6 linked regions of the Homo sapiens genome follow. The gene in region 2 interacts genetically with the main gene of each other region. Each region holds a gene or a part of one and is shown on either strand. Other genes may lie near its edges.

The links.
Region 1: changes in ASCC3 (region 2) and RPLP1 together harm fitness more than expected from each alone (negative genetic interaction), as found in Homo sapiens cells (one large-scale study listed by BioGRID).
Region 3: changes in ASCC3 (region 2) and CDK12 together harm fitness more than expected from each alone (negative genetic interaction), as found in Homo sapiens cells (one large-scale study listed by BioGRID).
Region 4: changes in ASCC3 (region 2) and RBM25 together harm fitness more than expected from each alone (negative genetic interaction), as found in Homo sapiens cells (one large-scale study listed by BioGRID).
Region 5: changes in ASCC3 (region 2) and DNA2 together harm fitness more than expected from each alone (negative genetic interaction), as found in Homo sapiens cells (one large-scale study listed by BioGRID).
Region 6: changes in ASCC3 (region 2) and MBTPS2 together harm fitness more than expected from each alone (negative genetic interaction), as found in Homo sapiens cells (one large-scale study listed by BioGRID).

What each region holds. Positions count from the first base shown.
Region 1 is NC_000015.10:69,451,355-69,455,617, reverse strand, and holds the start of RPLP1 (large ribosomal subunit protein P1), read right to left. Parts: upstream 2,801-4,263; 5' UTR 2,670-2,800; coding exon 2,598-2,669; intron 1,972-2,597; coding exon 1,897-1,971; intron 449-1,896; coding exon 331-448; intron 191-330; coding exon 111-190; 3' UTR 1-110. UniProt on the Homo sapiens protein: Plays an important role in the elongation step of protein synthesis.
Region 2 is NC_000006.12:100,843,330-100,846,829, forward strand, and holds part of ASCC3 (activating signal cointegrator 1 complex subunit 3), read right to left. Parts: intron 1-3,500. UniProt on the Homo sapiens protein: ATPase involved both in DNA repair and rescue of stalled ribosomes. 3'-5' DNA helicase involved in repair of alkylated DNA: promotes DNA unwinding to generate single-stranded substrate needed for ALKBH3, enabling ALKBH3 to process alkylated N3-methylcytosine (3mC) within double-stranded regions.
Region 3 is NC_000017.11:39,467,986-39,471,485, forward strand, and holds part of CDK12 (cyclin-dependent kinase 12), read left to right. Parts: intron 1-2,893; coding exon 2,894-3,500. UniProt on the Homo sapiens protein: Cyclin-dependent kinase that phosphorylates the C-terminal domain (CTD) of the large subunit of RNA polymerase II (POLR2A), thereby acting as a key regulator of transcription elongation.
Region 4 is NC_000014.9:73,057,034-73,061,333, reverse strand, and holds the start of RBM25 (RNA-binding protein 25), read right to left. Parts: upstream 2,801-4,300; 5' UTR 2,629-2,800; exon of another isoform or gene 2,550-2,628; intron 2,249-2,549; exon of another isoform or gene 2,099-2,248; intron 2,059-2,098; exon of another isoform or gene 1,881-2,058; intron 1-1,880. UniProt on the Homo sapiens protein: RNA-binding protein that acts as a regulator of alternative pre-mRNA splicing. Involved in apoptotic cell death through the regulation of the apoptotic factor BCL2L1 isoform expression.
Region 5 is NC_000010.11:68,423,474-68,426,973, forward strand, and holds part of DNA2 (DNA replication ATP-dependent helicase/nuclease DNA2), read right to left. Parts: intron 1-3,500. UniProt on the Homo sapiens protein: Key enzyme involved in DNA replication and DNA repair in nucleus and mitochondrion.
Region 6 is NC_000023.11:21,849,617-21,853,116, reverse strand, and holds part of MBTPS2 (membrane-bound transcription factor site-2 protease), read right to left. Parts: intron 1,609-3,500; coding exon 1,505-1,608; intron 1-1,504. UniProt on the Homo sapiens protein: Zinc metalloprotease that mediates intramembrane proteolysis of proteins such as ATF6, ATF6B, SREBF1/SREBP1 and SREBF2/SREBP2.

The sequences.
Region 1 (4,263 bases), on a different chromosome or scaffold from region 2:
GAAAGCCAACATTACAAAACAGACCATTTTTGCAGAGCACATTCCAAAACTATGGACAAGACCAACAGCAGTAAAGTTCAGCTTTTTATTGAACATGTTATAAAAGAGGTTTAGTCAAAAAGACCAAAGCCCATGTCATCATCAGACTCCTCGGATTCTTCTTTCTTTGCTTCCACTTTCTTCTCCTCAGCTAGAAAAAAAAAGTCAATCAGGTGTTAGGATTTCCATACTTCATATACTTGTGAAAAATTAATGGCAATTTTGTCTATAATACTATTTTTTAAAAAATCTCTACACTCCTCCCAATACTAAAAACTCCATGTTTCCTACCTGGAGCAGCAGCAGTGGAGGGGGCAGGACCTCCTGCTGGTGCAGCACCAGCTGCTGGAGCAGGTCCACCGGCCCCTACATTGCAGATGAGGCTCCCAATGTTGACGTTGGCCAGGGCCTGCAATACATGTGCATGCATAGGTAAACGCCCAGTTCTGTCCTTGTTAAGCACTCACGCAGCCAAAAACGAAAAGTATCCCCCATTCCAGGTTACAGTGATCAACCCCTAACACTATATACAGTGAGTTCCACATCCATGGATTCAACAGTGGAAAAATAAGCATGTGTACCAAACATGTAGACTTCTAAAGTATACAGGAGGATGTGCATAGGTTATATGCAAATACATTTATATAAGAGATGGAACATCCTGGGATTTTGTTATTAGTGGAAGGTCCTGGAACCAATACCCCAGACACTGGCTTTTCTTTGCTAACAGCCAAGACTTAGGTTACAGGGCAACGCACTACTGTTCAGCTTTGAATCTGATAATTACATTCCTATATGTTAAGAACCTCCTGAGGCAGCTGATTTCCCTCCTTTTACAAATAATATGTTGGTAAAAAAAAAATCCAAACTTCCTGAAACACTCAAATGAATATTCTTTCCACAGTTCCATGTCTCCTCTTAACAGTGAATTCAAATTTTCAGTCTACTAAACAAATATAGGACTTCAAAAGGGGCTTGTTAAATATGACATAGGTACAATGTTTTCAATCTTTCAAAACTCTTTAGAGGTCACAACCCTGGAGTTAGATGCTATTAGCTTCACTTGACAGAGATTAAGTAACCTGTACAATGGAAAATAGCCAGTGCAAGCTCCATGACCAGGAACCTCTTTATTAGTCTTTTATATCCCAACACACAGTACCTACTGTGTCAATGAAGTCCGCTAAACCCAAATGTCCATCAAACCATAGGTTTAATGCAAGAATTTACTGAAAGAATTTGCTTGCGGGCCGGGAGCGGTGGCTCAAGCCTGTAATCTCAGCACTTTGGGAGGCAGAGGCGGGGGGATCACGAGGTCAGGAGATCGAGACCATCCTGGCTAACATGGTGAAACCCCGTCACTACTAAACACACACACAAAAATTAGCCAGGCATGGTGGCGCACGCCTGTAGTCCCAGCTGCTCGGGAGGCTGAGGCAGGATAATGGCGTGAACCCGGGAGGCGGAGCTTGCAGTGAGCTGAGATCGCACCACTGCACTCCAGCCTGGGTGACTCCGTCTCAAGAAAAAAAAAAGAAAAAGAAAAAGAATTTGCTTGCAACTTAACATGCGTAGTACCTATCTCCCGAGTGACCCTTTTTGGGAATAAATGACCTGATTCACATTTTTTTTAACCATGGTTTCAGAGCAAAAGGGAAACCAGAGTCTGATAAGGAAACGTAAGACTTGACAAGCTGAAATCTTATTAGCTCCTAGAGATATACATGCAACGAAAAACACCTAGGAGATCCAGCGGCATGTGGGGCGTTATGGCACCGCTGGGGGTACTTTAGCATGTACAACTGCCCTCGTAAATCAGCAGGCCTTACCACAATCACTTTGCCACCATCACCTTACCTTTGCAAACAAGCCAGGCCAAAAAGGCTCAACATTTACACCGGCTGCTTTAATGAGGGCATTGATCTTATCCTCCTACAACAAATAAAAACGTCAATCCATCAAAACGTAGCGTATGTAATATCTCCAAAATGCTGCACGTCACTCAATAAGTGTACATAACATGTTTAACCAGCTCAAATATTCTATCACAAGCAAAAGAGATGTGTGCCAGGCGCCCTGCAATGAGGCGAGCCCATCACTGCTGTTTCACGGGCTGGGACTTGCCTGAGTCACGCGGCTATTTTTAAGTTACAAGACCTGGGAGGTGGAGCCGAGCTCGGGCGCCTTCCTCCACGACCGGGGGAATTCAAGGCAATTACACCGAAAGAGGTCCGAGTAAGTGTCCCTGAGAGAGACGAGGCACGGGTCAGGGTGCCCAAGCACTGCGGAAGAGCTTTTCTACACGAAGGCTCTTGGAGCCGGAGCGCCCAGCCTCAAGCGCACTCCATGCCCGCTGGGCCCGCACGTGGTCCCGGGGGCCCAGGACCTGCCCGGAGAGAGGCCCCAGCCCCGAGGAGCGCCCGCCCTATGCGGCCTGTGTTCGCGGCCTGGCCCCGGCCGGAAGTGCTCAGTCGAACGGCCTGGAGCCGGGAACCGCATGGAGAGCCGAAAGTCACCGCCCACAGGCAGCCCGGCCGCCGGCCCGCGCCCGCACTCACCGTGACTGTCACCTCATCGTCGTGCAGAATGAGGGCCGAGTAGATGCAGGCGAGCTCGGAGACAGAGGCCATGGCGCGGGCGAGTGTAGGGCTGGCGCTGCCGGACGCGGTGCTAGTCGCCGGATGAAGTGAGGGCCTCACCCCAACGCAGCCTTAGCTTCCTCGGAAGGACCGAGCACCTTGGCGGCAGCTGAGGAAAGGGGCTCTCGCGCCTATACGCAGCCTCTTATGTGTCCACGCGGACCAATCGGCGCCCGCACCGGGCGGAAGAGGCGGACCCAGGACCCACTGAAGGCGCCTGCGCACTGCGCCTGATTGGTTCTTACTGTTGAGAAAGTTTCTCAGCGCCTGCAAATACGGTCCCACTTTATTTGGGTAAATTATAGGACCTGAGAACGTTAAAAACACTTTTAGGTTAGGGTTGCCTAGGTATTCGGACTTCGCCTCCGTTGGTTCCATGAGTTGCTTGACTTGGCAGGAGCTCCGCTGTGGCCCTGGTGACATTGTTCGTAATCTCCTGGTTAGGTCGCGGCCTTCCCAGCCGGCGCTGACCCTGAGAGTAAGGGCTGCGTCCCAGCTTGGAGGCCCCTGCTTAGCGCAGGACCTTGGTTGAGATAGGTAGATGTAGGAGGATGAGAGAAACTAACAGCGTTATGCTAGCAGAAGCCGTAGAGCGCTTACTATGTCCCAGGCACTGAGCCACATTCTGCAAGGATTCACGTAATCCTCACACACCAGGAGTTGGATGTTATCTCCATCTTGCATATGGCAAAATTAAGTCTTAGAGCTGGTAAACTAGCCCAAGATTATGTAGTTACCGCGCAGTGGAGCGTGGATTTGGAATCTAGAAGCCTAACTTAGACCCGGTAGCTAACTCAAGATTGCATAGTTCCGCGCGGTGGAGCGTGGAGTTGGAATCCAGAAGCCTAACTTAGACCTGGTAACTAACCGAAGATTGCATAGTGCCGCGCGGTGAGCGTGGAGGTGGAATCCAGAAGTCTAACTTCACTGCCTAGTGCTTGGGGGAAGGAGGGATTATGGGTAAGCTGTCTACAACCCGTTATTTGTTATCTAAACCCAATTTAAATTCCTACCTTCAAAAATGGTCATCTTTGCATTCCTCGTGGAATTTGCTTAGTTTACCGGAAAGTTAGTTCTATGTATATATATCTTTTTTTTTGGTGGGGGGGGGGCACCTTCTTTGTTTAGTCCATCCCATTATTTAATAATCATCTCTGAAGAAACATTTCTGTTGGAATCCACCGATCTAGAGTCCCACTTGGGTCAATCTTAACTACAAACATAAATATTTTCACATCCGGAATTTTTTAAAAAAGCATTTATAAAGCTATCAAACTTTTAAAAAATAAAGCTGTTGAGTTTTCATCCAAATCTAAGCAGCCATTATAGTGGAATTTTGGTCAAGAAAGGTTAAAGCTATTAAAAAATCCAAACATTTCCAAAGCTACAATGAGTCAGTCCAAAATACTGTTTGTCCAGCAGTGTACATAAAAAACTGATCTGCCGGGTGCGGTGGCTCACGCCTGCAATCCCAACCCTTTGGGAGGCTGAGGCGGGTGGATAGCCTGAGGTCAGCAGTTCGAGACCAGCCTGGCCAACATAGTGAAACCTTGTCTCTATTAAAAATACAAAAAATTTAGCTGGG
Region 2 (3,500 bases):
TGAACTTGCATGGGTCAAGTAACGCCATCTGCATAGAGTCAAGAGATAATACTAACGGCAAATGTCAAATCACAAATGCTATAAAGAAGCAGCCCATCTGCACAAAAGCAAACTACGGTTGTATCAATAAAACTCAAAACTCTCTTTTTCTAAAAACTGATTATACAATAACTCTATCAGTATCTACATCAGCATTAATAGCTTTGCAAATAGCATGTAATATTGAAATAATACTGAGATATGTATACTTCAATACATCTCCAATATGCTAGCCTTTCAGATCCCACTTTACATATTTCTCAAGTGTGTTTTTATTAACATCTTTTCCATCTTAACAAGAACTATTAATATCAGAACTCACTTCAAAAACTTAATCCAAAAGATTTTCTTTAGGGTAGTCAGACATTAAAAAGCCAGGCAGGAAAAAAATAAAAATAACTAAATAAGTCCCTGAATTAAGACCTCGCTTTTAAATATCATTTTATTGTTTGAAACATCCATAGCTAAGAAGGCATAGATAAAAATTTATTTACTGACATATAAGGTATACACCTAAATAAAAGTTTGACTGTGCAACTATATGGTGCAAACACTTGAGAACCTGGTCTGTGAAACATTATGTCTCATATATATTATCTCACAAATCCTCACAGCAACACTGTGAAGCAAATATTTCACAAATTAGAGAAATGGGGTTCACAAGAGCTTAGTAATTTGCCCATAGTCGATAAGACATTAGCAAACAGAGACAAAATTTGGCCTGGCTTTATAAGAAAAGAAATTCCTTCAAAGAGCCTTGCCAGTTAATGTTCTTTTCTTCAAAAAATCTGATGGCATACTAGATAGGAATAGTAGATCTACACTGAGAAAAAAAGTCCCAGAATTTCTACCACTCTTTTGCTTTGTGACTTTAGTAAACAACTGAGCCTCAGTTTTTTTAACCTTTATAAAGAGGATATCACTCCTACACATTGCAGGACTGTGAAGAAGCTGGTTAGGTCAGAGAAGAAAGCCTGGTTCGGGTCCATACATAACAGGCACTTAAAACCTGGTAGCTTTACTGTTGTTAATACTACTACTTTCTAGGGGAAAATTTTCTGTTGAAAGTCCATTAGTTATACCATTCCAGTAGAACGAACCCTACTGCTACAATTCTGGTTCTGAAACACCCGCAGCAGGAAGACAATCTGTACCAATAATGGACAGGTTTTGATTAAGAAAATAACATGGAATATTCAAGTCTTATTCACTTCCGGGTGTTAAAATGCACTTCTAAAAGTGAATAAAATTCAAGAACATAAAGAACCTTAAAGATTTCTAGCCAATCAAATTCTAAGGCTTAATCATAATGCCTACAGTCTTACCTGGAAAATTACAGAAGCCAAAAGAAGAAATGCTCTTAGAAGAAAGTAACATAGAGGCTCAAGGTAGGGAGGGAAAAGGGGATGATATTGGCAAAAGCTAAGAAGTGGGTTGTTTTATTAGTACAACACGCAGGAGGACACAGATGTACTTTCTATGTAATGAATTCCCTGAGGAATAATTAAAACTCATCTTAAACAGGTCTAAAACAGGAGAACATAGATGTGCTTTCTATGTAATAAATTCCCTGAGGAATTATTAAAATTTATCTTTAACAGGATCTAAAAGTTTCATCCTTTTATTTCAGCCAATTCCTTATTTGAAACTCTAAAAGGAAAAGATCTTGTTTCTAAAGAAATTGTGAATTAAGAGTAGATGTCAATAATTCCCCTACATAAATTTAAGATGCTTAGCTTCAAAACACAGGAATATGTACAAATCTACTTAAACTTCAGTGCGCCTGTGTACTTTGTCAGAATGTCTGAATTTACATCCTGGATCCACTGTCTACTCTGTAACTCCAGACAAATTTCCCAACATCTCTAAACTCAATTTGCTAATCCATAAAATACCTGCCACCAGAGAGCAATAATCTATGGGACGGACAAAGCATTTACTTAAGGTACCAGCAAAGCAGACCAGGAAAGTTAGAAAAACTTCTCAAAACGGAACTTGATGTTTGAAAAAGACATCAACTTTGTCACCACAGTAATAAATGAAATTTTGTTAGATTTTCTTATGTTTGCTTTAGTATGCTATTTTTAAAAAAATTTTAATCACATATGGGAGAGGAGGAGAAATGCCTCAGAGTGTAACCTTTTCAGTTCTTAGGGCTTCTAACATCTTAATCCAGCACTGCCTATCTCAAAGCACTGCTATAAAGATTAAATGAAGTCATGCACATAAAGCACTTAACATAATGCCTTATGTCACATATTAATGTCAGTTATTATTATTACTATTGTCATTAGTCTTATTCCTCTCCACGTTTCAGTCAGAAATCTCTCTTACACAGTCTTTGTGGTAAATGTAATCATATGAATATACTTTTTATTCCCATGTTTCTAACACTAGTTTAACAATAACATAAAGGTCTTTTTAAAAAAGACTTTAATAGCTAGCCCTTAAAAATGGATTTATCATCAATTAGTCATTATGTCAATTAACTATTCAGAGCTGGGAAACCACAGGTTGAGAAGAATTTTTGCCATCAGCATAGAAGTAGCTTTATATGCTTTTCTTAGATTATATGTAAAAATATTCCCATGGTTCTGCTACATTTCTGGAGCAAGAGCACACAGCATGCTACATAAATATTCCTATTTAAATAAAGAGTCAAGTAAAAGCTTAAAAAGAAATAGAAATTAACTGTTATCATATGAACTGATGGCCTTTTTAATTATCCTCTTTCCAGGCTTAAGTATTTAGAAGTAAATAGACAACACATAAGGTATAGCACGCACACCCTAAAGTGAAAACAACACTGGTCAAGAACAACCGCAGTGAAACAACTGTAGGGAAACAATTGTAGAAAACTCCTGAAGTATCACTTGAAAATTATACTGAAAATTTGCCATAACAACAGAATATAACATATAACAGCAAAGAATTGTATCTAAAATATAAAGCATGAATAATCTATACTGCAGAACAAAAATTATGACAATGATTGTCCATTTTCATATACGAACAGGAAAACCAAAACACTGACTACATAAAACTATACAGAACTACCACTCAAGCCACTGACAGGATGTGAAATATCAACTTACATGTTAAACTATCCATTAACCCTGGTTGAAAAAAATCATTGAACCAGACTATGCAGACTTCAGTGTGGCTTGTCATACACCTTAACAAGGCGCTCAGCCCTCACCTCCTTTGGCTCTTACCTATCTGCATACCCTTGTTTCTCAGCACTCCACCTTTGCATCTTGCATGCTTGCTGTACAGAGCTACAGCTCTCTGAAAACAGTGTTCAAGCCTGAAATATGCTCCCTACCTTTCTGGTCCACTTGAAAGAGTTAAATCTAGTCATATTTTAAGAATTGGTTCAAGCTTAACCTTCTCTATGCATACTTTTGCTACCATACTAACACCTCTATAAAATCTATGACTTGTTCTTTTATGCACCCATT
Region 3 (3,500 bases), on a different chromosome or scaffold from region 2:
CGGGTTCAAGCAATTCTCCTGCCTTAGCCTCCCGAGCAGCTGGGATTACAGGCGCACACCACCATGCCCGGCTAATTTTTTTGTATTTTTAGTAGAGCTGGGATTTCACCATATTGGTCAGGCTGGTCTCAAACTCTTGATCAGGGTGATCCACCCGCCTCAGCCTCCCAAAATGCTGGGATTACAGGCGTGAGCCACCGCGCCCAGCTTCCAATAATAATTTTATATTTTAACTGACTTTTGGAAGCAAACTTGCAAGAAGCAGTATAGGTAAAAGAAAATCATCGCTGCCATTATGCAAGTTGTTTCCCTTACACATATATGTTGTTTTGAAACATTTTGGTTCATGTCAGTCTTACTATATGTCAGTCTTACCATATCTCCCTGATCAAAGATAAAGGAAGATGTGATGATCTAGAATGGAAGCAATTTGTTTTAGACTACTGGGAAAATTTTGTTTTGTCCAATTATGCTTTTAATATTTTTATTTTATTTATTTATTTTTTTGAGACGGAGTTTCACTCTTGTTGCCCAGGCTGGAGTGCATTGGCACAATCTCAGCTTACCACAACCTCTGCCTCCCAGGTTCAAGCGGTTCTCCTGCTTCAGCCTCCCGAGTAGCTGGGATTACAGGCATGCATCACCATGCCCGGCTAATTTTGTATTTTTAGTAGAGACAGGGTTTCTCCATATTGGTCAGGCTGGTCTCGAACTCCCGAACTCAGGTAATCCGCCTGCCTCAGCCTCCGAAAGTGTTGGGATTACAGGCGTGAGCCACAGTGCCCGGCACTTTTAATGTTTTTATTTTAATTAATTAATTAATTTATTTATTTATTTATTTATTTTGAGACAGATTTTCGCTCTGTCGCCAGCCTGGAGTGCAGTGGCGCAATCTCTGCTCACTGCAACCTTGGCTTACTGCAACCTCCGCCTCCTGGGTTCAAGTGATTCTCCTCCCTCAGCCTCCCAAGTAGCTGGGAATACAAGCATGTACCACCACACCCAGCTAATTTTTGTATTTTTAGTAGATACAGGGTTTTACCATGTTGGCCAGGATGGTCTTGATCTCCTGACCTCGTGATCTGCTGCCTCGGCCTCCCGAAGTGCTGGGATTACAGGCGTGAGCCACAGCACCCGGCCTTTGTTGGTTTTTTGTTTTGTCACACATTGAGGCCTTAGCAGGTTAGGCTTTAGTAAAAAGTCATGAGAATTAATGACATTTGGGTTTCAACTTAAAATGATCTGCCCCATAGATTCCCAGATTTTATTTCCAAAGCCTTTCTTAAGAAGACAATTAATTAAACATGCAATAATATCTTTAGGAGTTTCTAAAAAGTCTATTGGAAATCATTTTATAATAAAGATATTAGGAGCCCTCATGTTTTTGAAACGTTCTAAAAGTTATTTTGGTAAATCATTTTCTCCACTTTATTTGTTTTGTAAATCCTAAGCCTTATGTGTTGGGAATTTGTTTAGTACTTTATTTTAAACTTTACAACTTTATTATAAACTGAGGATGCAAGGAACAACATATTTTTCTGGGCTCTGCCATTTAACTCTCTAGCTAACAAATTTAGGTTTTGGTGAAGCATGCTTGTTGCTTTTAACTTCCTGATGGATATAACCCACCTTTACTATGGAGTATGACTTCTTTTTTTTTTTTTTTTTTGAGACGGAATTTTGCTGTTGTTGCCCAGGCTGGAGTGCAGTGGCACAATCTCGGCTCACCGTAACCTCTGCCTCCTGGGTTCAAGCGATTCTCCTGCCTCAGCCTCCCAAGTAGCTGGGATTACAGGCGCCCACCACAACGCCTGGCTAATTTTGTATTTTTAGTAGAGACGGGGTTTCTCCATGTTGGTCAGGCTAGTCTCGAACTCCCAATGTCAGGCGATCCACCCATCTTGGCCTCCCAAAGTGCTGGGATTACAGGCGTGAGCCACCGCACCTGGCCAAGCATGACTGCCTTATCCTGTTTTCACTTTATCAAAGATTAAATTCAAAATTCTGAAAGTAATCATTGTGAGTATGGCTGTTTCTTTTCCAATGTGGGAAAAAAATAGTGACCCATCTTTTTTCAGATGAATAAGTAGTAGATAATTTTATTGTTATATGATTCAGATATGTTTTCATGTAGGATTTAGTTTAATCTATTTTTTTTTTTTTTGAGATGTAGTCTCACTCTGTCGCCCAGGCTGGAGTGCAGTGGCTTACTGTAAGCTCCACCTCCCAGGTTCATGCCATTCTCCTGCCTCAGCCTCCTGAGTAGCTGGGACTACAGGTGCCTGCCACCACGCCTGGCTAATTTTTTGTATTTTTTAGTAGAGATGCGGTTTCACCGTGTTAGCCAGGATGGTCTCGATCTGCTGACCTGGTGATCTGCCCGCCTCAGCCTCCCAAAGTGCTGAGATTACAGGTGTGAGCTACCGTGCCCAGCCAGTTTAATCTATTTTTTAAATGAACTTTATTTCTTTAGAGTAGTTTAAGATTTACAGAAAAATTGTGAAGATAGCGCAAAGAAGTCTCATATATCCCTGCATCCAGTTTCTCCTATTGTTAACATCTTACATTAATGTGGTACAGTTGTTACAGTTAATGAGCCAATATTGATACATAATTATAAACTGGAGTCCATACTTTATTTAGATTTACTTAGTCTACCTAATGTCCATTTTCTGTTCCAGGATCTTACTCATTATACCATCTTACATTTAGTCCTGTCTCCTTGGGGTGCCTCTTGATTGGGCTGGTTTCTCAGACTGTCCTCGTTTTTGATGGCACTTAATCTATTTTACAATTGATAAGTTACAGTTCTTCATAGTTTGTTTTATTGATCTGTTTTCCTCCATATACTACTGTAGTCCATTCATTTAAAACTGGCTTTTTATTTTTCCAGTAGGAAATCCATGAAGTCCAGAAGTAGAAGTCCTGCATATTCAAGACATTCATCTTCTCATAGTAAAAAGAAGAGATCCAGTTCACGCAGTCGTCATTCCAGTATCTCACCTGTCAGGCTTCCACTTAATTCCAGTCTGGGAGCTGAACTCAGTAGGAAAAAGAAGGAAAGAGCAGCTGCTGCTGCTGCAGCAAAGATGGATGGAAAGGAGTCCAAGGGTTCACCTGTATTTTTGCCTAGAAAAGAGAACAGTTCAGTAGAGGCTAAGGATTCAGGTTTGGAGTCTAAAAAGTTACCCAGAAGTGTAAAATTGGAAAAATCTGCCCCAGATACTGAACTGGTGAATGTAACACATCTAAACACAGAGGTAAAAAATTCTTCAGATACAGGGAAAGTAAAGTTGGATGAGAACTCCGAGAAGCATCTTGTTAAAGATTTGAAAGCACAGGGAACAAGAGACTCTAAACCCATAGCACTGAAAGAGGAGATTGTTACTCCAAAGGAGACAGAAACATCAGAAAAGGAGACCCCTCCACCTCTTCCCACAATTGCTTCTCCCCCACCCCCTCTACCAACTACTACCCCTCCACCTCAGACACCCCCTTTG
Region 4 (4,300 bases), on a different chromosome or scaffold from region 2:
CAATCCCAACACTTTGGGAGGCCAAGGCGGGTGGATCACCTGAGGTCAGAAGTTCCAAGACCAGCCTGGACAACATGGTCAAACCCCGTCTCTACTAAAAATACAAAAATTAGCCAGGCATGGTGGCAGGCACCTATAATTCCAGCTTCTATGGAGGATGAGGCAAGAGAATTGCTTGAACCCGGGAGGCGGAGGTTACAGTGAGGTGAGATCGCGCCACTACACTCCAGCCTGGGTGACAGAGCGAGACTCCATCTCCAAAAAGGAAAAAAAAAAAAAAGTACACCAACTCAGAAAAATCGGCAAAATCTATTTAAGAACTGTAGATTAGGTATTTTATCAGTGTTAGTTTCCTGATTTTGATTGTCGTACTGTTGTTAGGTAAGACTAGTCCTAATTTTTAGAAAATACACTTAAGTATTTATGGGTTAAGGGGCATCACATCTGCAACTTACTAGCAAAACATTTCAGAAGAAACCTATGAAGAGAAGGATAAAGCAAATTGGCAAAATGTTAACATTTGAGGAATCTGGTGAAAGATAGCTGAGATTTCTTTTGTACTATTCTTGCAACTTTTTTTGTAAATCTGAAATTATGTCTAAATAAAAAGTTAAAAGCCAATACCAATAATTCTGGGTAGTGGAATTTTGTTCTTCTAGTTTCAGCAACTTTCAATTTTCAAAAAAAGGTAGAAAAGCTATTTAAGAAGAATCAAAAATCCCCTTTTGTGAATGGCAGTGATAGTGTTTGAAAAGTCAATCAAGAGATCTCTAAAATACAGACTGTTTTAGCAAGATGTTAAGATTGATAAATGATTCCTTTGCTTCCAAAGCTATAAAATAATGTAAATTTTCACTAAATCATGTGTAAATAAGAAAAGTAAACTGCTAATTTGTCTGTGGACAAAAACATAACTTGAAAATTCCAAATTCCTGTTAGGTCTGAAGTAGTTACCCAATGTTAACATGGACTAGTTTTACTTTAAAAATACATTCAGAAGGCCGGGCACGGTGGCTCACGCCTGTAATCCCAGCGCTTTGGGGCCTAGGCGGGCGGATCACGAGGTCAGGAAATCGAGACCATTCTGGCCAACATAGTGAAACCTCGCCTCTATTAAAACTACAAAAATTAGCCGGGCGTGGTGGCGCGCGCCTGTAGTCCCAGCTACTCAGGAGGCTGAGGCAGGCGAATCGCTTGAACCTGGGAGGCGGAGGTTGCAGTGGCCAAGATCGCGCCACCGCACTCCAGCCTGGGCAACACAGCAAGACTCCGTCTTAAAAAAAACAACAACACAAAACAAAAAAAAAAATTACAGAGTCAGGGTTGGACTCTTACATTTCATTGAAAATCCTTAAATAACAAATTATGTCAATATAGATTTAAATGCTTATGTGTGTTACCTGGATACTGCACGAAGGATTTTACATACGTTTTTCTCAATCCCCAACCCCAATAACGTATAGATACTACTATAAATTCATTTTACAGAGGAACAAAAACCAAAGCTTAAAAGAAAAAAGAAAAAGAAAAACCAAGGCTTTAAGTTAAATGAATTAGAATACTATAAGATTCACTTGAATCATGAGTAACTTATGACCAACTTAATCCCTTTCAAGTCCTCTGAATGTTTTTGGAAATAGCCTTTAAAAAAATTAAAAGCTCCAAAGACTATACAAAAATTATTTATACATTACTGCCCACGGCCTAATACACAGAGTACTTCACACTAATACAGCAGTAGGGTGCAACAGAGGTCCAATCTCTTCCCTTCTCTTGGCTCCACTCTGCCCAGTATCAAAATGGCATTTCCATGGCAATACAAATCCATATTACATAACCTCCGAAAAATCTTCATAGTCCTACGTCTATTCCGGAAAACCGTATTTAAAAGCAGGATTGACGACCAAAGAAAAATGAGAAAGTAACATTTTAATGTGGAGCTTAGTAATCGCCTAGAATGAATGGCGATATACAGTTTACTGCACCCTCCAATGCGCAAAAGAGGCAGGATGGCAAAATTCATGACTATCTTAAGCAAGCCAGGAGACTGCTAAAAAGGTAGGTATTAGCTCAATTCCAAGGGGGTGGGGCCCAGTTCACTTGGTGGCGGGCTCTAGATGGCCAAAGAGGAAGGGAAAGATATCCGTTGGTGGCCAGCACCTCGCTAAAAAGGGTGGGTAGAGGCTAACTTCAAGGCAACGGCTGGGGCGAGAGTGTCCCAGGCCCGAAAACCTACTGTGGGGCTCCGGTAAGTAAGGGGGCTCAGGGAAGGGCTCCCCTGGGGCAGATCGATCGTTTTGTATCTAACGTGGAGCCCAGGGGGGGCAGAGACGATTCACTCCGCGGCGGAACGTGGAAGGGAAAGGGAAAGTGGGCGACAATGCAAGACGGAAAGCTCAAGCCGTAGGTCTGGCCTCCACCAGCTACGGCTGGGCCCACAGCTTTTCCAGGCCTTAGAGAAGAGAAGAAACCAAGCCTCGTGCCGACCCCTCCCCCACCCCCGCCTCCGCGCTCCCCCTTACCTCTACCCCACCCTGGCGCTTTCGCAGCCACCCCGGCTTTTCCTCCTCCACCAGCTGAGGCACCCGGTCTCCCGGTTTCCACACGCGTTCAGAGACACAAACTCACCCGCCGCTGAGGAAACGGTACTGCCTTCGCGACCTTCTGGGATCCAGGTTACGAGTGCGCTCCACTGGTTCGAGATTTCTGCCCGTCGCTCGCCAGGGAGACTGAGTGCCCAAGCGCCTACTCGCACAGGCCGCAAATACAGCCGCGCTGCGCGGCGAGCTGATGGAGGTCTTCCTCTTGCCCGGCGTGCACTGCGGCCGGGGGCGGGGAGCGCGGAACCATAGAGAAGAACGTATATAGATCGTCTCCGCTGTTGGCTCTGACTCACCAAGCCGAGACGAATAACCATAGAGAAGCAGCGTCTAGCGGTTACTAGAAAGGCCCGAACTGTAAATTATGACCCACCATGTTTGATTGGAGCCGACTGAATCTTACGACTACGGGACGCCATCTTGAGGTCAAGGTTCCGGCTGGGCACGGCGCGAGGAGTGTTAGAGGCTTTCTCACTTTTCGTAGTTTTTCGGGGGGTGGAACCTTGCTTTGTGATTCCTTGAGGTTCGAGGAACTGATAACTGGGCGCGATCTGCAACCTTAGTGTTAAACCCCAAGTGCTGTTATAACAACTACTCGAGATCAACAAATAATTGGCAAAGGCTGTGGAGGTTTTTTGAAAAGCAAAAGCTTATGCGTAGTTGTAGGGCCAAAGAGGTGGCTAGAAGATGTTTGGAAAAACGTGAAAAGTCCTGTAATACTAGTTAACACAGCTTTCGTTCTGTAATCTAAACGTGCTAAAAGAACTTAGCTTAAGTTAATGGAAATGAATAAAATTAATCATAAATGATTACGTTATTCCAATTGTGGACCTTATAGGCAATATCTAGTTACACGCCTTTCTCAACTGCTTGCCTCTAGGAAGGCATAAAACGGATTCAGTATAAAGTTATTGCCTCCCTGAGTTCCTGGTGCTGTGTTAAGTGCTGGAAGTATGAAGGCAAATGGAAGTGAGATTTGTTCCTGTCCTGCAAGAACTGTGAGCCAGGTGAAATAGATGACAAACCATGACCAGCCTAATATAAAATTGAAACATACTACACACTTCCTGCCTGCCTCCCCTACTTAATTTTACTCTAAAGCACTCATAACCATCTATCATAACATACATTTTTCTTGCTGATTTTATGGTCCGTCACTACCCCCACTAGAATGTGAATGTAAGCAATGCATGGATTGCCTGTTTTGTGCAAGAACAGGTCCTGGTACATAGCAAGCGCTCAATAAATATTTGTTGAGTGACAGAAATGATTACCGGCCGGGCGCGGTGGCTCACGCCTGTAACCCCAGCACTTTGGGAGGCCGAGGCGGGTGGATCACCTGAGGTTAGGAGTTCGAGGCCACCCTGGCCAACATGGCAAAACCCCGTCTCTACTGAAAATACAAAAATAAACTAGGCGTGGTGGCAGGCGCCTGTAATCCCAGCTACTCGGGAGGCTGAGGCAGGAGAATCGCTTGAACCCTGGAGGCGGAGGTTGCAGTGAGCCGAGATGGCACCACTGCACTCCAGCCTGGGCAACAAAGTGAGACATTGTCTCAAAAAAAAAGAAAAGAAAAGAAAAGAAATGATTAACATATGATGAGTACCAATAGAACACAAAATTTAGTGGGAGCACAAATGAGAAAGTAGCACTAATTACTACCATCTGCAAAATTTACATCCTTCTATACTTCTGCTTGC
Region 5 (3,500 bases), on a different chromosome or scaffold from region 2:
GCTCTCTCCAGCTGAAGGAACAGGAAAAGGAAAGCCTAGCTAGACAGAAAACTTTCACACAATAACTACTCTAGCCAAATATCACTGGAAAAAAAGTACAGCCCCACAACCACAGACACCAGCAAACAGGGAGGAGGGTAGATCTCTGCCCTTCTCAAGGCTGTAACAAGGTGCCCCACACCCCACCAGGCGGGTGTCAGAGAAAGCCAAGTAGGGAGTCAGGTCTTTCATCCCCGATGACTGGTAACTGGCACCAACCCCACATGTTAGTAGAGACCACATCAGAAGCCTAGACTTCCACCCCAACCAAGTGGGCCCAGCGGTAACGAGGAACCTCCCACTTTGGTCAAAGAAGGCTGAGTGGGGAACCCACACTTCGACTCCCACCTGGCAGGAATGAGGTGGTACCCCTCTTCCCCTACCATGGCAGTGTGAGAGGAAGCCAGCTAAAACAGAAGTTTTCAGTAACAACAAAATATGCTCATGTTTCAATAAAAAAATCAATAATTAAAGACGAACCAGGAAAATCTCAAACTCAATGAAAACAGATGACAATCTATAAATGCCAACACCAGAATGACAGAGAGGTCAGAACTATCTGACCAAGATTTTAAAGCAGCCACGGTAACAACATTTAATGAGTAATTATGAACACGCTTGAATATGAACCAAAAAACAAAGTCTCAGCCAAGAAATAGAAGATAGAAAGAATAAAATGGAAATTTTAGAACTAAAAATATGATAACTGGGCCAGGTACAGTGGCTCACGCCTGTAATCCCAACACTTTGGGAGGCCAAGGTGGGCAGATTGCTGGAGCTCAGGAGTTTGAGACCAGCCCGAGCAACACAGCGAAAACCGGTCTCTACAAAAAATACAAAAATAAGCTGAGTATGCTGGCATATACCTATAGTCCCACCTACTTGGAGGGCTGAGGCAGGAGGATCACTTGAGCCAAGGAGGTCGAGGCTGCAGTGAGCCTTGATCATGCCACTGAACTCCAGCCTGGGTGACAAAGTGAGTCACTGTCTCAAAAAAAAAAAAAAAAACAAAACAGGCCTGAGGCCGCCGCTAGCCGGAGCATCACCATGAAGTTCAATCCCTTCGTGAACTTGGACCGCAGCAAAAACCGCAAACGTCACTTCCATGCCCCCTTGCACGTGCACCGGAAGATCATGTCATCCCCGCTCTCCAAGGAGCTGCGGCAGAAGTACAATGTCCGCTCCACACCCATCCGCAAGGACGACGAGGTCCAGGTAGTTCAAGGACACTACAAAGGTCAGCAAATTGGCAAGGTAGTCCAGGTGTACAGAAAGAAAGATGTCATCTACACTGAGCAGGTGCAGCGTGAGTAGGCCAACAGCACAACCGTCCACGTGGGTACTCACCCAAACAAGGTGGTTATCACCAGGCTAAATCTCAACAAGGATCGGAAAAAAATTATTGAACACAAAGCCAAGTCTCGACAAGTCAGAAAAGAGAAAGGCAAATATAAGGAGGAACTTATTGAGAAAATGCAGGAATAAATATAACCTGTTGTGCAACCATGGTTTAACTGAGATTTTTAGGCTAGTGTGTGTTTCTTTGGAACTTTTCAGAATGTCTCTGGAACATTTCTTTTTTTTTTTTTTTTTTTTTTTTGAGACAGAGTCTTGCTCTGTAGCCCAGGCTGGAGTGCAGTGGCATTATCTCGGCTCACTGCAACCTCCGCCTCCCAGGTTCAAGCGATTCTCCTGCCTAAGCCTCCCGAGTAGCTGGGATTACAGGTGCCTGACACCATGCCCAGCTAATTTTTTGTATTTTTAGTAGAGGCAGGGTTTCACTATGTTGGCCAGGCTGGTCTCGAACGCCTGACCTCGTGATCCACCCGCCTCGGTGTTCCAAAGTGATGGGATTACAGGCATGAGCCACTGGGCCCGGCCATGTTTGTGTTCTTTTTTTTTTTTTGAGATGGAGTCTCGCTCTGTCTCCCAGGCTGGAGTACAGTGGCGGCGATCTCGGCTCACCGCAAGCTCCGCCTCCCCGGTTCACGCCATTCTCCTGCCTCAGCCTCCCAAGTAGCTGGGACTACAGGTACCTGCCACCATACCCGGCTAATTTGTTGTATTTTTAGTAGAGACAGCGTTTCACCGTGTTAGCCAGGATGGTCTCCATCTCCTGACCTCGTGATCCGCCTGCCTCGGCCTCCCAAAGTGCTAGGATTACAGGCGTGAGACACCGCGCCCGGCCATCTCTGGAACATTTCATTTCCTGTTTTGTTACCTGAGGCTCTGTAAATCTACTTTTGCAAATTTAATTAATAATTTTATAAATAAAAATGGGAAATGTTTCATAATTCAAAAAAAAAACAAAAACCCCAAAAACCCAAAAAACAAATACCAGGCCAGGCGCTGTGTCTCACACCTGTAATACCAGCACTTTGGGAGGGCAAGATGGGTGAATCACTTGAGGCCAGGAGTTCAAGACCAGCCTGGCCACCACAGTGAAACCCTGTCTCTAATAAAAATACAAAAAATTAACCAGGCATGGTAGTGCATGCCTGTAGTCCCAGCTACTTGGGAAGCTGAGGCATGAGAACCATCTGAACCTAGGAGGCAGAGGTTACAGAGAGCCAAGATCGGGCCATTGCACTCCAGCCTAGGTGACAGAGGAAGATTCTGTCTCAAAAAAGAAAACCTTCAGCATCTGGGGCTAGACAGAGTTCTTAGACTTGAGACCAAAAGTATAATCTATAAAAGGAAAAAATGTATATTCCGGACTTCCTCAAAAAAAAAAACCTTTTGCAGCCGGGCACAGTGGCTCACGCCTGTAATCCCAGCACTTTGGGAGACTGAGGTGGGCGGATCACCTGAGGTCAGAAGTTTGAGACCAGCCTGGCCAACACAGCAAAACCTCATCTCTATTAAAAATACAAAAATTAGCCAGGTATGGTGGCTCATGCCTGTAGTCCCAGCTACTTGAAAGGCTGAGGCAGGAGAATCGCTTGAACCTGGGAGGCAGAGGTTGCAGTAAGTGGAGATCACACCACTGCACTCCAGCCTGGGTGACACAGTGAGAGTCTGTCTCAAAAAATAAATAAATAGGCCGGGCGTGGTGGCTCACACCTGTAATCCCAGCACTTTGGGAGGCCAAGGCAGGCAGATCACAAGGTCAGGAGATGGAGACCAACCTGTCTAAGAGACGGTGAAACCCCGTCTCTACTAAAAAAATACAAAAAATTAGCCGGGCATGGTGGTGGGCGCCTGTGGTCCCAGCTACTTGGGAGGCTGAGGCAGGAGAATGGCGTGAACCCGGGAGGCAGAGCTTGCAGTGAGCCGAGATTGTGCCACTGCACTCCAGCCTGGGCGACAGAGCAAGACTCTGTCTCAAAAAAATAAAATAAATAAATAAATAAAACTATCTTTTGTTCTGCATAAGACCCTATGAGGAGGATAAAAAGCAAGCGATAGAGTGGGAGAAAATACCTGCAAACCACATATCCATTAAAGGGCTAGTATTAGAA
Region 6 (3,500 bases), on a different chromosome or scaffold from region 2:
ACCAATATGTTGAGCAAATAATTGAAGTTAGTCACATATATACAGAAATGGCTTTTATGAGAAACTAAATGAAAAACATTTTTATGGTTTACTCTGAACTATTTTCAGAGAAGAACATAGGAGACGATATAATTCAAGTAAATTACCTAATAACTTGTATTTGTCTTAGCAATTATAAATAATGGTGGAGATTTATCTAGGTGTATTCCTATCAAGCTAACGTTAAATAAGTATGTTTAAACATGCATAATGCTCAGATTGTCCTTAAGAGAACCAGTTTTTTCAGCAGGTTTTGATCTCCATATTAAAAAAAAAAAGAGAACCATTTTTTATCAGTTCATTTTCCAAAAATTAATATTTAAGTCTCATAAAACCAAACAGCCCCCCTAGAAAAAAGTATCACCTAAATATATTGTGCTGTTGCTTAATACTAAATATATAAGACAACCGTACAGTTCATTTTTTTTCTTGGCAGTTGGGACTTAAAAAAAAATTACCCAAGTTATTTTTACAAACATACTGTAAATTGTTAAGCTGTTATTAACGATGTGTCTATAGGTAAAATCCTAAAGGCTGCAAAGCACTGAAGGCGATTTTAAAAGAAAAAAAAAACCCAGCAGCCACCACTTTAAGCCACTATTGTGCACATCTGTGTAACAGTATATGCTCTGTCAAGATGAGGATTTATTGCCAATAAATAGACTCTTGTTCATAAACAACTGGAAAGTAATAAGAAGTGATTACATCTTCTCTGCCAAAACAGAGGTTTTTAACCTTTTCTCTGGTCCACACACCGAAAGGATAAAACACATTCCTATTAGCATGCTTGCTAATTATGGCCGTAATTATCAGTGGAGGTAGCAGGGGAGTTATGACGTGGCCCTCTCCCCATCATGATTTTATATGTGTTATAGGCTTCTAAATGCTTAGGTATAGTTACAATGATACATTTGGGAAGCCAAGACCAAGAACAGGGAGTGATACTCAAAGCTAGTCCCAGGTGTCTTCTTATCTTCCACTTGGGTTTCTAGATAGACTATGATATTTGTTAAACCCAGTGCTTTCAGTTTTCTTGCTCTAGCCAGCAGAGGACATAAGCAGAAGCAGGAAATTATTTCAGCTGATAAGTCAAATCAAGTTCTAAGGTGAGTGGGTTTTGAGTACAGTGGTTATCATTCTGACTCGATGAACAGAAAGATTGGCTTTTAGGACTTGGTAAAAAACTTTGAGGCATCATGAGGATAACCACACTGGAAAAGGCAAAGGATAGAAAGACCCTGATTACAGATATGCCCATGGTTAATGGAGCATATTCATCAACATATTAATCTTCTCTATAAAAAAAGAAGCTTCCTCAAAGTAACAAATGATGGCTATGCACTAGGCAATAGCCGCAGAAAGAAAAATAGTGAAGTATCAAATATAGCAGATTTTAGTAATAAATCCTCCTAAATGAAAAGCTTTTTTTTGCATGTAGTACAAAGAAAAAGGTAAATATCATTACCTAATAGCTGCTATCCCATGTCCAATTTCATGTACAACACCACTAATGAGAACTGCCGTGAAGAAATAGGTCAGTTGATTGACGGGTAAATTTATACCAGGAACCTGTTCATAGACACAATATGGCAGCAATTATCAGTGGGGGTGCAGGGGAGTCCCACTTGGGCACTAAGATACATGATGTTCATTCTGTATTAAACCTTCAAGCTGAATGTTCTGCAAACTAAAAGTAATATGACAATGGTTCACTTCTCCATTTCTATCATAATAAAAAGCAAAAACGCTATTTCATTTTTCGAACTAGCCAGTTTCTCTGGAACAAGCACACCACCAGTCTAAAGAGAATGAGAAACACCAGGTTAAACAGTTGAGATGTTAGCTTCCTGGAGTCTTCACCTTGGGAAAGAATGAGGGAGCCCAGCAAAGTGCCAAGGAATGCAGGATGACAGTGAAGCAGGCAGCAGCTGACCCAACCTCAAGGGCTGGATGCCTGATTTGGGAATCCTTGTTAAAATTCCTAGACCTTCCGCTGAATTGTTATTGCAAGGTTCCAAGTACTTGTGTTGATTAATATAGGAACTCCATATTATTAATCAGCGAGTTTCATTTTAATATCCTCAAGTTATAGGTGAGTTGGTAATGAAAGCTGGTCTAATAGGGATCCCGATCAGTGTGGGAGCACCATACCCTTCTATTCCATTAGTTGGTCTACTATGTTGGTCAGAAAAATAGTGTGGAAGAGATACACAAATACATTAAAATTGAAATTTAATGTCGAAATTAAGGCATTTGGAACCTACAGACATGTTACAAACATATGAAGCAGGAGTTGTCTTACAATCATGTGCTCCTAAAATGTGCAGGTATATATTATTGCATACACAAGGGAAGATAAGAGCTGCACAGCAAATTTTTTTAGATAGCAAAGATATATTCTCGTAAGATAAGTAATCACTCCCAAGTTATGTCATCTGTTAAAGAGAGACAATAAATTAGGCTAAGTGGGACACACCAGGCTCAGGAATACCATTTACATACTGAGAATCTATTTCTTACAGTCCAGGAGTTGGGACTAAAAGGTATCCTTTTGGAGGAAATTTCTGCTTTCTTTTATAATTATATTAATTATAAAAAATATGTTTAAAGCAAGAAAACTGGAAAATTCAAAGCAAAACAGAAGCCTAAAATTCTGCTCCCCAAACATACATACACATATAAAACCATTGTGAACCATTCTGATGTATGTCCTTCTAGTCTTTTCCTGTACACATAATTTTAAAAACTATACTTTTATTATAAATCTGGTTTTGAAATTTGCCCCTTCACTTAACAGTATCACAGACGTCTTCCCATGAGTATTTTCTATTTCAATATGATTTTTAATAGCTACACTGTGTTCTATGGAATAAACTGTTGGGCATTTAATTAAGTTTCTGCTCTTATAATGTGATAAAGATATTTGGACACACACACCTAAATATTTTGGAGGAAGAAATTCTTAGATGAGCATACTTGCTAAGGGATTGGGCTCTTGAGACATGTTATGGGTTTGAGGTCCTGTCTCTTTTTTTTTTTTTTTTTTTTTTTGAGACGGAGTCTCGCTCTGTCGCCCAGGCTGGAGTGCAATGGCGCGATCTCGGCTCACTGCAAGCTCCGCCTCCTGGGTTCACGCCGTTCTCCTGCTTCAGCCTCTCCGAGTAGCTGGGACTACAGGCGCCCGCCACCACGCCCGGCTAATTTTTTTTTTTTTTTTTTGTATTTTTAGTAGAGACGGGGTTTCACCGTGGTCTCAATCTCCTGACCTCGTGATCCGCCTTCCTCCGCCTCCCAAAGTGCTGGGATTACAAGCGTGAGCCACTGCGCCCGGCCGGTCCTGTCTCTATCTCTTAACTAGCTAAATGACCTTGGGAAAGTTGGCATTATTCCTCCAACATTCCTATTTTCTCATCATTAAAATGGAAATAACCACATTTGCACAAAAGGGTAATTTTGAGGAT